Regions from separate parts of the Homo sapiens genome. Here region 2 is linked to region 1. Evidence: fine-mapped expression QTL. Tissue or cell type: whole blood. Region 1 holds a variant in brackets; the other region holds the start of a gene. All regions are shown on one strand. Distances are between the middles of the regions.

Region 1 (8,195 bases):
GGCAGACAACTTCTTGGCCGCAGCATGGATAAAGTCAGAAATAAACCTCCAAACGGCTGGGCGCGGTGGCTCACACCTGTAATCCCAGCACTTTGGGAGGCTGAGGTGGGCAGATCATGAGGTCAGGAGATCAAGACTATCCTGGCTAACATGGTGAAACCCCGTCCCTACTAAAAATACAAAAAATTAGCCAGGCGTGGTGGTGGACGCCTGTAGTTCCAGCTACTTGGGAGGCTGAGGCAGGAGAATGGCGTGAACCTGGGAGGCAGAGCTTGCAGTGAGCCGAGATCGCACCGCTGCACTCCAGCCTGGGCGACGGAGCGAGACTGCGTCTCAAAAAAAAAAAGAAATAAACCTCCAAATGACTTGAAAGAAACATTTTTCAGCACTTCCCAAATACTACCAAACATATTCTTTGGTTTTCACTGATTTGCTATCCTTTTTGTACCTCAATTCGTAATTTTTTTAAAAACATGAGTTCAAACGAAAGCAATATTAAGATCCTAAGGCTGTGATTAAGAGTTCACTGTTTGTTTCCTACAATCCAGTTTGTTCTGTCCTGGACATATAAGAACATGACTTCAATTTTTAACTGGGCTCAAATAATTACAGTATCTGATGGATGTTCAGAATTCACATCATGAATTTTTAAACGATAAAAATGTTGTTAATTAAAGCATAATAAAAACCTCCTAATGTGGGCTACAGGAAGGGAAACGTGGGCAGTCTGGGTCTGCCTTCAATGCACTCACCTCTAGTTTTTTCTCCTTCTCCGACAAAACATCTTTCTGATTCTGGGTATACTCCACCAACATCCGAGCCAGCTGGCGACGGTCCTCCAGTTCTGCTGCCAGGCGCCCGTTATATTCTGCTAGTAACAGACATGCTTCATCTACTGTTTTTGAAAGACGTTCAGCTGCCTCTTTGTCTAAGTACAAATGAGACCAAAAAATAGAGAAAATATACAAATCACACAGGTATGACTACAAACATTTCTGGGGGAGGTTAACGGTTTCTCTCCCAATATACAGAGTCTGAGAATAAGCCAGCACCTGTGGACAAACAATGAGTTGATTAAGCAAGAAATCCAAAGGCATTCACTCTGTCAACAAGACAGGACACTACTCAATTACCTGAAGTGAGGAAGCTGTACATGGGGGGAATCTGGCAAAGGCTTTCTAAATGCCTGTTCCTGCAAAAGCTCTCCTGACAAAACAAGCATAAAGAGATATTGAAGATCACCTGTGAAAAAATCGTTCCTTGTCTCTGAGAATTGCAAGTGCTTTCATTTATATTACGGTTGGCCCCTATATCTGTGGGTTCTGTATCTGTGGATTCAACCAACCATGAATGGAAAATACTCAGACCAAAAAACCCCACAAACCAATAAAAATAACAATTAAAAACCCAATTTTAAAAATACAGAATAACAACTATTTACATAGCATTTACATTGCATTAGCTATGATAAGTAATCTAGAGAGTATTTAAAGTATATGGGAAGATGTTTGTTGGTTATAGACAAATCCGACACCATTTAAGGGCCTTGAGCAACCTTGGATTTTGGTATCCTCAGAAGGTCTTGGAACCAAACCCCCATGGATATGGAGGGACCACTATATTTCATTAAGTAGTCTTTTTACTTTCCACTGGAATAAAAAATAGCATGCACTTATTTATTGGGTGTGGGAACTAAGACCCCCTCCCCGCCAGAAAAAAAACTACATGACAGGTTTCTATATGCAGTGAGCTGAGATGCTGGGGCTCGAAGCCAGATCTCTAAAATGATCTATAGCACTCTATCTCTTAAACTATGTAAGCCTTGGACGTGGGGATGAACTTCTTCCTACATTTGACAAAATGTAAAGTCTGATAAGAAAGAGGTTTTTAAATGTTTCTGAACATGACCCACAGCAGAAATACACTTATGTAAATACACAGAAAAATGAAAGCAGCGTTTCATAAAATACCCATTCTTACTATGTGTGCTCTATCTTCTATTTTATCTCTTTTTTTTTTTTTTGAGATGGTGTCTTGCTCTGTGACCCAGGCTGGAGTGCAGTGGCATGATCTCGGCTCACTGCAAGCTCCGCCTCCCAGGTTCATGCCATTCTCCTGCCTCAGCCTCCCGAGTAGCTGGGAGTACAGGCCCCCGCCACCACGCCCGTCTAATTTTTTTGTATTTTTAGTAGAGACGAGGTTTCACTGTGTTAGCCAGGATGGCTTTATTCCATTTTTCAAAAACTGTTGGTCATTAGCTACCAGACTGATTTCATATCCAATTAATGGGTTGTAACTCATGCTTTGGGGGTGGAAAAACATTAAGAAAGGGTATTTTTGGGAAGAAGTGATGAACAAAGGCTCATAATTAAGAAATGAGAAGAAAAAGCAGGATCTGTATTTACAAAGAACTGATATAATTAATTATGTGTGGGTGGTGGTGAGATTCGAATTTTAAATATGTATAACTCATTTTTAAAAGACCTGAATGAATCAAAAGAGTAGGTTGGTGCTTTGAAACAAAGGGCACCAGAGACTCCGGCAGTACCGTGGGACAGTTCCATGACATTCCCTATGGATACAGGCTGTCAGAGGTGAGAGCTCGCATTCTCCTGGGGAACTAGGATTTAAGAATCCCCAACACAGTATCTCTGGCAAACAGCCATCTGGCTTTTCGATGCCTTCTTAATGTGAATATTGCAAGAGGAACTGCTGAAGGATTCCAGATTGGGTGTGATGCCAAAGATTAGGAACCTCTACCCTCCTCAGGGATGGGAAACAAAGAATGTCCTTGGTGAAGGGGAAGAAGTGAGCGGAATGGAACACAAAGGAAAGAGATCACCTCAGTCACAGAGGATAAAGGACCGCCAACTTCTCCTTCCTGCTCAGTGGCTCAGTCCATGAGCAAGCTCCTGGGGTGGTTAGGTTGGTTTTAGTTTTGTTATTGCTTGACTGATCGTTTTTAAAAAATGGTTAATTCACTAAGATGTTTAGGTGCCTGTGGCAAAAAATGGCAAATACTAATTTTTAAGATTAAAAAGAAAATCAATTTGCAGCCTCAAGAACTTTTACAAAGGAAATAATTCATTTACACAAATAATTACAACCCAGAAAAGTAACTTATAATAGTTTAGTGAGTTATACAAATACGCAGTGAAAATGCAGAAGCCAGATGCT[C/T]GCTTCGGGGGACCTACCCACGCTGTCCTCACGCTCCCTGCTCTCCTTCACCCATCAGAGGAGTGGCAAGTGCCTCTTTCGGCCAGTCCTCCAAGCGGCATGCGCATCCCATTCCCTCGTTTCCTCAAAGACTAAACTTCTGCAGCCGTCCCATGTCTTCTCTACCTCAGCAAATTCTCTCTCTCCCTCCTAAGAAAACCACTAGCACACAAACCTGCTGCCATGTATTCCACCTACATACCACTCTCCCACTACTGACCTGCTTCCCTGCTCCCCCTTGCAGCTAAACTCTTTTCAGAGAAGTGTAGCCACCTGCTCTCCTCCTGAGCCCACCCCAATCGGGCTTTATGCCCACCAATCCTCTGCTCAAAACCTTCCAATTAGTTTAACAAATTTGAGTTCTTATAACTAGGCTCTTAGAAACAGCAGAGAATAAAAAGGACAAAAACTCTCTGCCCTCAAGTTTATATTATCAGGTAGGAAGAGAATCAATATACAATAAATATTATGCTTACTTATCAGCTGAAGAGAACTACAGAGAAAAACAAGGCAGAGGAGAAAAAGTGGGGCACTGGAAGGTGGGGGGGATCAACATTTTCAAAAAGGTGGTCAGGGTGAGCTTCGCTAAGGTGATACGTAAACAAAGGCCTAAGAAAATGAGAACCAGCTATGTAACTATCTGGGAGGAACGTTTCAGGCAGAGGGGACAGCAAGTACAAAGGCGCTAGGAGGAAAGAGTGACTGGCAAGGAGCCCATATGACTTGAGCAGTGAGTGAGGGGAAAATAGTAAAAGTCTTGCGGTAACAGAGGCCAGTGAAAGACTCTGCTTTAAAGCCAGGCAGGGGGCTCACATCTGTAATCCCAGTGTTTTGGGAGGCCAGGATGGGAGGATTGCTTGAGTCCAGGAGTTTGAGGTTACAATGAGCTAAGATCATGCCACTGACTCCAGCCTGGGTGACAGAATGAGACTGTATCTCAAAAAAAAAAAAAAAGGGGGGGGGGCTCTGGCTTTTAATTTGGTGATGGGGGGAGTCGTGGGGGTGTTATGTGGAGCGGGAGACATGATCTGCCTTCTACTAAGAGGATCACTCTGGTTACTATGTTGAGACTAGAATGATGGCTGAGCAAGAGGAACAAACGAAGTAGCTAGACCAGCTGGGAGGCTACTGCAATAAATCAACTGAACATGGTAGAGACCTGTACCAGGTGGCAGTGGTAGAGGCGGTGACAGGATATCAGATGCTGGTTTTGGTCCCAATCAACAGGAATGATGAGGGCCATTTACTGAGATGGAGAAGACCATGAGTGAAACAAGTTTTAGAGGAAAGGTCAGAAGTTCAGTGTGGGGCAGAGTAAGCTTGAAATGCCTATCAAGATATCCAACTAATAAAACTGAGTAGGAGGTTGGATATATGGGTCTCAAGTTCAAGGTGGAAGGGTCAACACTAGAGATGTAAATTAGGAAATCATTCGCAGAAAAACTCTTATTTATAGTCATGAAATTGGGTGAGAATGGCTGCCAGTGAAACCAGCTAAAGAAGGGGGCTAATATGAAGAGGTCAAGGAGGAGTGAAGAAACCAGCAAGGAGGCTGAAAAGACACAGAAAGAGAGGAGGAAAGCTAGAATAATGCAGGGTCCTAGTTCCCACTGCTACTGTAGCAAATTACCACAAATTTAGTGGCTTGGAATATCACCAATTAATTATCTTATGCCTTATCACAGTTGCTTCCTCCATCTTCAAAGCACATCGCTCCAACCTCTGCTTCCACGGTAATACCTCCTTCTCATTCCCCCTCTCCCACCTTCCTCTTACAAGGACCCTGTGATTACACTGGGCCCTCTTAAATAATCCAGGGTAATCTCCTCATCTCAAGATATTTAATCACACCTGCCAAGTCCCTTGGCCATATAAGATTACATATACACAGGTTCTGTGGATTAAAACATGGGTGTTTGCGGGGTGGGGGGTCAGGAGGCATTATTCCAACTACTACACCAAGTGAAGAAAGTATTTTCAGGAAGAAGAAATAATCTACTGGGCCAAATACTACTGGGGTGAAGTTAAGATGGGGGCAGAGAATCCACCATTGAGTTCAGCAACAAGGAAGTCATCAGCAACTGGGAGGACGGGAAGTAGAGAGACAGCACAGGCAATCCATTCAGGTGGTTTGGCTAAAAAGAACAGAGAAATGAGGCAGTAGCTAGAGGAAGATATGAGGTCAAGAAAAAAATCTTCCCAAGTGGGGGAAAAATTCATGTTTTTATGCTATTGAGAATGATCCAGTAAAGAGTAAAAAATGGAGAATGCAGGAGAAAGAGGGAGCATTGTTGGAGCAATGGCCTTGGCTAGATGAGAAGGAGCAGATCTAATACACAGAGAGGCGGGTTTAGAAAATAGCATGTCCATGTAGAGAAATAGGAGGAAAAGTCAACTCAGACATGTTAGTTTTTCCCAGCCACATTCCACTACACAGGTTCGGGAAAGGAACAGACAAAAAGCTAAATTTAAGAATGGTGGTTGCCAGGTGATATGGGAAGTGAAAAATGATGAGTTATTGTTTAACGGGTATAGAGTTTCAGTTTGGCAAGACGAAAAGAACTCTGGAAACTGGTTGTATAACAACATGAGAATACTTAGCACAACTAAATTGTACACCTTTGTGTTTTATGTAGCTTACCATTTTATATGTATTTTACCACAATTAAAAATCAAAATTAAAAAAGTATTTTAAAAGGAAGCTACATGAGACCTTTAGGTCAGTGAAACAGAGAAACAAAATTACATACATGGCTAGCTTTACATTAACTTGCTTGCAATTTTTGCAGATTATGATTTTGACAGTAAGAATAAATGAAGTGGTCCTTTTAGTAGTAAGTATTTTTAAAATGTGATTTAACCTGTTTAGGGATTTTGCCAGGAGACTACACTGAAGGGAGAAAGAGAAGAAAATGGGTTGAAGGTGTGTGTGAGGAAGTGAAAAGAGAGACTCCAATCTGAATAAAGAAGAAAATGAGGACTCGAGGACTAGGAAGAGGTGGGGGAGGAATCAAGAGACTGCAGGTCCCAGTGGGGTGAATTCCTGGGGTGGGAAAGCAGAGTGAGGGGCTGAGATGCTTCTTGCGTGACTCACAAGGCCTCCGAGCTGTGTTCTCCAACCCAGTACGCCCACTGCCTGAGGTCTTTCCCTGTGCTGCTTCCACTGCCTGGTGGCCCTTCCTTCCCTTGGATATCCTCATGGCTTGCTTCCTAATTTTTCGGGTCTCTGCTCAAGGTCATCTCATCAGAAAGGCTTTCCCCAAACACCTTTAAAATACCATTAATACCGCCTGCAATCATTTTCCGCTCCCACTGCCCTGCTTTATTTTCCTTCTTGACACTTCACTTGAGGGGATATAGGTGGGCCTCAAATATTTGTTGAGGGAAATATTTCATCAGTGACCTTGATTTCCTTTAGATAGATATGGAAGAAGTTAGAGAAGCAGCCAAGTCAAGGGACTGGAGTGGGAAAATGGTGGCCTTTGGAAGACAATGGAATGAAAGGTCTGAGCTTTTGTAAGGGGAGGAACATAGGCTTTGCAGCCTAGATTAGAATCCCAAGATCCACTACTTGTGTGACCTTGGACAAGACACCTATCTTCTCAAAGCCTCAATGTCCTCCTATGCAATATGGAGACACACATTTAGTCACCTCCAAAGACTATCACAAAGAACAGAAGTACCGGTGCAAAGCCTACTGTCAATATTAGTTCATGCTTCATTCCTTCCTTTCAATTTCCCATAAGGAAAGCAGGAATCGTGTCAACTGCCCCTCCCTGTTTAACTAGGGAGGTCACGACTAGGGCAAAATGACATGTCTAACAGACACCTGAAATTCCTGGCACTGAACGCACTATCATCTACGGGGCTTGTCAGAGAGCAGGGCACAAATCACACAGCCCTGAATCATAATTTTTTTTCTTTTAGTAAGAGGGTTATGAGTCTAACAGACAGAATAATACCTAATCTCCCCCACCCACCCCACACGCACACAATTTGTACTATGTTTTTAACAGACCTTATTTAGAGAGCCACAGGTTGTGGCACACCAGCATTTCTGCAATAATTCCTAGAATCACTATTCAAGCTTTGACTATTTCAAAAGTTTCTTTGTTCACCATGTGAGTTATGTTTGCAAATCCCAAGATGGTAGAGCAACCAATACAACATGGAAAGTAGTCTATACCTGCAGACGTTAAGTATGGCCTAGGGTTACTGCATTACAGTTATGTCCCTCTCTCCTCACCTTTCACCCAAACTCTACCTTCTCACCTGTTATTTTTTCCAATAGAGAAACATCTTGCACTTCCTGGGGCAGAGAAGCAATTTTCTGTCGGACAGTAGCATCCCCTGATGCGGCATTTTCCAGATCCTGCAAAGCTTTGATTAGTTCCTCAGTCTGTAAGATGAAAACACAAACAACACTACCCATTAAGACATGGGGTTTAAAGAAAATTAGTTGGAGTTAAATGAGGTGGAGGCAAATTCTAAAAACAGTCATTCCTGCCATTTCTTAAAAAAAACTGTTCTTAGCCCCAGAGCTTACATGTAAGTCAATGTCACGGACTCTAAGAAAATCCACAAAATTAGTTTATCTAAGTCCATGGCAGAACATGAATGAAATTCTGAATAATTATTATTATTTTTTAATTCTAAAAGAACATGTTTTTGGCAATTCAAAACAATGGAGTTTGGTTCATGTTGCTTAATTTCAAATGATGTATCATTTCCAGTATAGAATAAAGGTATAAATATCAGATGTTAACAACTGTGTGTTGTGGCCAGGTGTGGTGGCTCGCACCTGTAATCCTAGCACTTTGGGAAGCCAAGGCAGGAGGATCACTTGAGCCCAGGAGTTCGAGACCAGCCTGGACAATATAGCGACACCCTGTCTCTACAAAAAAATTAAAATAAAATAATAAGCCAAGCATGGTGGCATATGTCTATAGTCCCAGCTACTTGGGAGGCTGAGGTAGGAG
Region 2 (8,168 bases), 30 kb after region 1:
CCACATATACCAAGCGGCTACCTGTTGGATGGCACAGATAGAAAACATTGCTATTATCACAGAAAATTGTATTAGATAGCGCTGTTTATATCCTTTATGCTGCTATCATAGAAAGTTGTATTGGATAGCGCTGTTTAGATCCTTTACTCAACCACGAAAATTCTATCAGAGACCATGATTTAATTCCTATTTTTAAACTATATAACAGGCACCACGCGATATCCTGTGGTGTTGCAAATAAACAAGAAGGTCTAGTTCCTCTCTCAAAACATAATCTAATGACAAAGATGTAACCAGTTCAAATGAACAGCTAGTAGGAACAAATTAAATGCTAAACTGGTATGATGGGGTGGGAGGCACTCATTAATTCTAATAAATGAAAGCACCACAGTTTGATTGCAGTCAGGTGACCACCTTCACTTATTAAATGCATTGAGGCACTGAGTACATGAAAAAGAACACATTTTGGCATCAGGCAGCCCTGGGCTCATGTCCTAGCTGTATGTCTGTGGACAAGGCACTTAATCCCTCTATACCTTTATCATCTCATCTATAAAATGAGGATAATAATGCTAGCCTACTTGCAACATAAGGCTTTACCACGTAAGATTAGGGATAACGGAGCTTCATACACAAATGTACTCTCTAATTTGCTTTTTTTCAGTAACTCAACTAGGGTGAGGCAAGGAATCAAGAAAGTGTCACAAAAGAAGTGACACTTGGCCAGGCGTGGTGGCTCACACCTGTAATACCAGCACTTTGGGAGGCCGAGGCGGGGGCATCACAAGGTCAGGAGATCAAGACCATCCTGGCTAACACAGTGAAACCCCATCTCTACTAAAAATACAAAAAATTAGCTGGGTGTGGTGGCGGGCCCCTGTAGTTCCAGCTACTCGGGAGGCTGAGGCAGGAGAATGGCATGAACCCGGGAGGTGGAGCTTGCAGTGAGCTGAGATCGCACCACTGCACTTCAGCCTGGGTGACAGAGCGAGACCCCCATCTCAAAAAAAAAAAAACAAAAAAAATGACACCTGAGATGGACTTTAACTGCCTCTTGAGGTCCCACCCAATAGAATTCTGTACAGTGGCAATTCACATTTCAGCACACTCTTCAAATAATTTCTGAATGGCACAGTGGGGTACATGAAGAAGGCCCCATAAACTCCAGGCTCTACCTCTTCCCGGAACTGCCCGAAGGGCTGAGGGGATCCCTATCTCAGTACAGTACGCGATATTTGGGGGCAGTCCCTGCTAAAGGGCTAGAACTGGGTCTCCTGAAAAAAATCATGAAGATTTTGGTGTTTGCCAGCCTGTTGTAGTCTGAGCCTGTTCAGTTCGAAAGCCTTGAAAATACCACTTAGCCACTTCAGTTTCCTCACCTGTAGAGCAGGACATCTGTGGTGTCCCCAACTCACAGATAGTATAGAACACTTGTAAAGCCACTTCGCTATAAAGGCCTACCACATATAGGGTGTCTGGAGCAGCTCTGAGCTTCATTTCTTCAGTCTTCCATTATGAAACTCATCCGGGAGTGTAGGTGTCCATCTTTCCCCACCAGACTGTAAGCAACTTGAAGGTAAAGACCATGCCTCACAGTGAGTAATCAAAAGTCTCATCTCACCATAATCTGCTGAATGCCTACACTGTGCCTCACCCCATGCTAAATGTTCATTTGGATTATCCCGTTTACTCCTCACCACGAGATGAGTCTCAGTTTTTCCTCTTCTGCAAAGTTCCTACTTCATAGGGCTCCGAGAATTTTTTTTAATGGCAATGTATGTAAAGATATCAGTACTGCACTTCGCATGTAATAAAGACATAGTAAATTTCAGTTATCCATTCTGTAGATAAGAAAATTAAGGCACAGACAGGTTAAGTTGCTGGGGTCAGTAAGGCGGCAAAGTCAGGCTTAAATTCTAGGCAGTTGGCAGAGGCAACATGCTGCAAGTGTCCAAGCCAGTGCCTGGCACATAACAGAATGAGTTCAATGAATTGTCTGTCAGAACCTGAGCAGGGCCTGAAATCAATGACAACTGCATGAGAGAGGAGAGGAGAGGAGAGGTAAGGTCTGGGTGGCCCCTTAACCTAAGATGGGAGAGACTACCTACTTCACAGGGCTGTTCTAAGGACTGAGTGCGAGGATACACACAAAGGTCTTAGTATAGTGACTGGTATGAAGTAAAGGCTTTGTAAGGGGTAGCTATCCTTGCCTCCCTCTTACAGATGAGAAAACGGAGACACAGGGAGATGAAGAAACTCTCCCAGTATTATTCAGCTGGCAAATAGCTGAGCCAGGACTCGATCTGCAGAGTCTGACTCCGGAGCCCACTGGCTTTTACTCCAAATACCCAGCACTGGGCCCGACATGCTAGGGCCAGTACGGCAGTGAATGCAGCCGAGATAATAACAGCCACAAATGTCAGGGGGAAACTGAAGGGAAAATGGCTTGATGAACTAGAAGTCTGGACACCTGAGTCCCAGTCCGTGGACCCTCAGGCAAGTACCTTAAACCTTCCCGGGCCTCAGTTTCCTTCTTCGAGAAATGGGGCTAACTTTGTCTCCCATCTCAGAAGCTCGATCAGGCCTGGAAAGCAAGGCTCAATGAAGAGGCTTAGAGGGGCCTAGGTTGTATGTGGGCGAGAGGACAATCCGGGGACCGTCCAGGGGGTGGGGATTTGGTGTTTACCTTTGCGGAGCTCGCGGTGCCACACGGAGACGATGGGTCCCGCGTGCTTGCGGTGGTGGATGAGCCAAAGGGACAGGGTCTGCACGCTCTGCTGAGAGTTGCTCAGCTCCGAGAGCTTCTTCTCCAGCGCCGACTCAGAGAAGGAGGACATGGTGGCGGCAGTGAGGCCCGGCAGGGAGCGGCCTGGGCCGCCCAGTGCGGCGGGAAGAGCGACGGCACGAGGCCGGGGCCTCACCTGACAGGCTGCGGGACTTTTTACCGACTGACAGACTGCCAGGGGTGCGAGAAGGGGGAGGGGATGGGTCTCCGCAGTAACAGCCGCCCGCGCCGCCGCCACAAGATGGCCACCCGACCTCTCACCCTGCCGCGAGAGCGAGGTCAAAGGGCAAGGGCCGGAGCAGAGGGGCACCGAGAGGCGTCGGAGCTCTAGAAAACCGTCCCTTTGGAGGCGGCGGCCGCTCTGAACCTCGCGCAGAGCACTTCGAAGGAGACAGAGCGAGGCAAGGAGAGTAGTTCCCCGGGCCCCCGGAAAGAGCTTTGACCGCTCGAGCCTGCACACCGGCGCAGTGGATCTCGCCGGAACCCTTTTTCCCGCTCCCTCGGAACCTTTCTGGCGCGATACGGCGCGCTACTTAGCGCGTCACTTCCGGCGAGGCAGAGGAGGCGGGAGAGTGAGAGAAAGGCTGGAAGACGAGGTAAGGGAAGAGTGGCGGGAACCAGAGGGAGCCCAGCAGCTGGGACCCTGTAGAGGGGTATCCTGAGGGGACATTGAGTCTGAGAGATCATGATCTGGATATGGGAGGGGGATTTCCTTTCTAATCTGGCGGGCCCCAGGCCGCATCTTTCCTCCATATGTGTTCGGCTCTCTGGCTGTCCCCCAAAACACTTAGTTTTGGTTCTTCCAAGCCACCCACGTGCCCTTTTCACGCCTCCACGCCCTGGCGCTCGTTCTCTGTCCGAAAGTGACATCCCCTTTCTCACCTGGTGAGCTCCTACTCAGCCCCCCGGAGCACCCTTTAATGTCCTGTTTTGACCTTTTAGTCTGTAACAGCGCCGTCATGAAACACACATTTGGGCTCTCGGCTCTTAAGTGGGTTCTCACTCAGGGTATTATTACGTGCTGCTTTTGCCGTCTGCGGGTCCAGTTGACTTTTTCGAACTTAAGTGAGGTGTTAACTTTAGGGAAAAGGTGGAGGGAACTAACTTAGCCTTCCCAATGTGTCTGTTGACCTCATGTTGAGACACACTATTTGAGGCCTGGCGCAACGTCTCTTGCTTGTAATCCCAACCCTTTGGGAGGCCGAGGCGAGAGGATAGCTTGAGGACTGGAGTTCAAGACCAGCCTGGGTAACAGCGAAAATTAGCCAGGCATGGTGACGCTCACCTGCAGTTCCAGCTACGCGAGAGGATACCTTGAGCCCAGGAGTTAGAGGTTACAGTGAGCTATGATCGTGCCACTGCACTCCAGCCTGGGCGATGGAGCGAGACTCTTCTCTGAAACAAAACAAAACACTATCTGAGACTCTAAACCTTGACCCTATTTTTTTTTTAAGTTTTAAATCCCAGGTATCAAAGCAGCAGAGAAATTTTGTTTTTCTTACTGCCACGGGGGTGATGGTAGGGAGTTAAGTTATAGACATAAGAGGGTTTTAAAATTTCCTGATCGTGGTATAACTTCCTAGTTGTGGGCAGACTCTAGTTTAGGAGACGTTCTTCTAGTTGATGCCTGCTTTTGCTCTTATTGCACTGTATTGCAGTTCTTTGCTTACATGCTTTTACCCTTCCTCCAGACTGGAATCATAATCATAGCTAACGCAGTGAGAGGTTACTATGTGCTAGACACAATTCCCACACAGTAACTCATTTAATCCTCACAACAAAGCTGTGAGGTATTATATTATCCCCCTTTGGACAGCGTAGGAAACAGGCTCAGAGAGGTTAAGTGACCTACCCAAGATCACATTACTAAGACTTGAGGGAAGGGGCTGCAACTTAGCCATCTTTTTGGCCCCAGTTCCTGATTTATCAAGTGAGTTAGTGTAAAAGAGGTGAGTAACCTAAAATCATACAGTGAGTATCTAGTCATAACTGAGGGCTTTTGTGTCGAAATCTAGATCATCTTTCCATATTAATAACACTGTCATATACTGAGCACTTTTATACCAAGTCACTGTCTATTAAGCACATTACATACTTTTTAAATTTAATTCTTACATCAGTCTTAGGAGTTGAAATTATTACAATCACTATTTGATAGACGAGAAAATGTAAAGCATGGTTAAGTACCCTATGTACTTGGACATAGTTAGGAAATAGCAGAGCCAGGAGTCAAATTAGGGTTATCTTATGTCTGATCCCAAATTCTTGCCTCCTGAACCAATAGTTTATTCATTCATTCGGAAAATAATTTTTCAGCACCTATGTCCAAAGCACTCTTCTAAGCTAACAGACAAAATCCACGTTCTCAGGAACTTACTTTCTACTGAGAAAGATAGAAAAACAAACATGCAAGTTTAGAATAAGTCAGAAAGTGGTAAGTAACTTCAATAAAAATCAAGGAGATAAGGAGGATAAGGAATGTATATGTGTAGGTGGGTAGTCTTTTACTTATGCTTCTCAGAGAAGGCCTCATTGATAAGATGTCATTTGAGAGACAAGCCATATGCCATTGTTCCAGGAAGAGGGAAAACCAAGTTTATACCATTGTTGGCATTTTGGAGCAACAGCAGAGAGGACAATAAAGCTGGAGTGATATGAACTAGAAGGGTGGCTGGAAATTAGTTCAGAAAAGTACGAAGGGACTGCATCACATGGTGACTTGTAGGCAATAGTATAGACTTTAGATGTTACTCTGAATGAAATGAAGTCCACTGGGCAGTTTTGCACAAAGAAGGAGCATTGTGGCTGTTAGGTAGAAAATAAGACAGTAAGAGTGCAAAGGTAGAAGCAGGAAGGACCAGTTTGGCAGCTGTTGTAGTAACCCAGGTGAAAGGATAACTCAAACCAGGGTGGTATCTGTGGAAGTGGTAAGAAAGGGACAGTTCTGGGGATATTTTAGAGGAAGAGGTAACAGGATCCGCTGATAGATTGGATATGGGGTGTGAAAGACATATGAGAGTTGAGATAGCTCCAAGGGTTTTGGCCTAAGCAACTATAAGAATAGCGCTTCCATTTACTGAATTACAGAAAAGAGTGGGTTTGGAGAGTAAGAGCAAGCATTTGTATTTGGACATGTCCATTTGGAAATGCCTATCTGAGTATAGATGTCTAAGGGGCAGTTGGGTTTATGGGTCTGGAATTCAAGGAAGAGCTATCTGGGTTAGAGATAAAAATGTGAGAGTCATAACGGAATAAGGTGTAAAAAGAGACTGAGTCCTAGGATTCTTCAACATATAGAGGTCTGAAAGGTGAGGATGATATGATTATGTGATTTTTCTTCTTAAGCTTGTTAATAGCTTGTTAGTATTAACAACTCTAATTGATTTTCAAATATTGAGCCAGTCTTGCATCTCTGAAATATACCCCACTTTATCATGGTGTGTGTGTGTGTGTGTGTGTGTGTGTGTGTGTTTTACATACTGCTGAATTTCCTAATATTTTCTTTAGGATTTTTGCATCTATACTCATGAGAGAAATTGGTCTATAGATTTTTTTAATTTTTGTATTGCCTTTGGTTTGGTATCAGGATAATACTGGCTTTATAAAATGGATTGGAAAGTGTTTCTTCTTTTTCTAGAAGAGTATGTGCAGAATTGGTGTTAATTCTTCATTAAATGTTTGGCGGAATTCTCCAATGAAACCATCTTGGTTTGGAGATTCCCTCCACTCCCTGCTTCCCTCCCTCCCTCCTTCCTCCTTCCTCCCTCCTCCCTCCCTCCCTTCCTTCCCTTCTTCCTTTTTTTTCTGGAGTTTTTAAGTGACAAATTCAGTTTATTTAAAAGTTATAAAGCTGTTAAAATAATCTCTTTCCTATTGTGGTTGTGTTTTTTGAGGAATTAACCACTTCATCAAAGTTGTCAAATTTATATGGGTAAAGCTATTTGTGGTATTCCCTGTCTTTGTTTTCTGTTGCTTATAACAGAATACCTGAAACTGGGTAATTTATAAAGAAAAAGGATGTATTTCTTACAGTTATGGAGGCTGAGAAATCCAAGGTCACAGGGCCACATCAGGTAAAAAACTTTCTTGCTGGTGGGGACTCTGCAGAGTCCCAAGGCAGTGCAGGATATCACAGGGCCAGGGGGCTGAGTGTGCTAGCTGAGGTCTGTTTTGCTCTTATAAAGCCACCAGTTCCCATGATAACCCATTAATCCATTTATGAGGGCTTATAAAGACTCCACTTCTCAATACATTGGGAATTAAATTTCAACATGAGTTTTGGAAGGGACGGATATTCAAACCATAGCATTCCCATATTACCCTTTGATGTCTGCAGGGTCTGTAGTACTGTCCCGTTTCATTACTGATATTGGAAATTTCCAGTATCAGTGTCTCGTCTCTTCTCTCTCCTCTCTCTCTCTCTCTCTCTCTTGCTCACTCACTCCCTTGTCAATCTTGCTAGAAGTTTGTCAATTTTATTGACCTTTTCAAAGAACCAGTTATTTATTTCATTGACTTTCTGTGTTTTCTGTTTTCAGTTTTGTCAGTTTCTGCTCCTTATTATTTCTTCTGCTTGCTTTATTTTGCTCTACTTTGTCTAGGTTCTTGTGGTAGGAGTTTACCTTTTTCGTTTGAGACTTTTCCCCTTTTCTAATATATGACTTAGTACTATTAATTTACATCTCAGCATGGCTATAGCTGTATCCACAGATTTTGGTGTGTCATATTTTCATTTTCATTCATTTCCCTATTTTTTTTCTAATTTCCCTTAAGGTTTCCTCTCTGTTCCGTGGATTATTTAGAAACATGTTGTTTAGTTTCCAAGTATTTGGAGATTTTCCTGTTATCTCTGTGTTAGTGATTTCAAGCTTGATTTCATTGTGGCTGGGGAATGTCACTCTGTATGATTTCAGTTCTTTTAAATTTGTTGAGGTTTGTTTTATGGCAGGATAATCATCTGTCTTATGTTCTATGAGCACTTGAAAAGAATGTGGGCTAGGCACTGTAGCTCATGCCTGTAATCTTAACACTTTGGGAGGTCAAGGCAGGAGGATCACTTGAGCCTAGGAGTTCAAGAACAGCCTGGGCAACATGGCGAAACTCGGTCTTTAAAAAATACAAAAATTAGCTGGGCATAGTGGCATGCACCTGGAGTCCCAGCCACTCAGAACGCTGAGGTGGGAGGATTGCTTGAGCTCAGGAAATTGAGGCTGCAGTGAGCCATCATCGAGCCACTGCACTGCAGCCTGAGCAATAGAGTGAGATCCTGTCTAAAAAAACAAATAACAACAACAAAAGAATGTGTAGTCTGCTATTGTAGGATGGAGTGTTCTATAAATGTCATAGGTCCTGTTGGTTGATGGTGGTGGTTTTTCTATATCCT

Evidence for each region. PIP is the estimated chance that this variant, and not a neighbour inherited with it, causes the effect.
Region 2: it holds the start of TTI1, and the variant in region 1 is fine-mapped to the expression of TTI1 in whole blood (TOPMed, PIP above 0.99). The same link has a PIP of 0.9 or more in hippocampus, pancreas and testis.

The regions. Positions count from the first base shown.
Region 1 is chr20:38,058,814-38,067,008 of GRCh38, reverse strand. It overlaps RPRD1B (regulation of nuclear pre-mRNA domain containing 1B), which reads right to left. Exons shown (of 7, transcript NM_021215.4): 5 at 7,489-7,615; 6 at 753-928. Among named protein-coding and RNA genes, the nearest start is that of RPRD1B, 29 kb to the right of the region's middle. The variant C/T (reference allele first, on the strand shown) is at 3,178.
Region 2 is chr20:38,028,617-38,036,784 of GRCh38, reverse strand. TTI1 (TELO2 interacting protein 1) reads left to right here and starts at 3,329. Exons shown (of 8, transcript NM_001303457.2): 1 at 3,329-3,381. RPRD1B (regulation of nuclear pre-mRNA domain containing 1B) reads right to left here and starts at 3,039. Exons shown (of 7, transcript NM_021215.4): 1 at 2,687-3,039. The coding sequence starts at 2,837. It overlaps LOC124904898 (a long non-coding RNA gene), which reads right to left and starts at 2,679. Exons shown (of 2, transcript XR_007067579.1): 1 at 1,380-2,679. RefSeq lists enhancers at 2,407-3,002, 3,203-3,472, 3,003-3,598.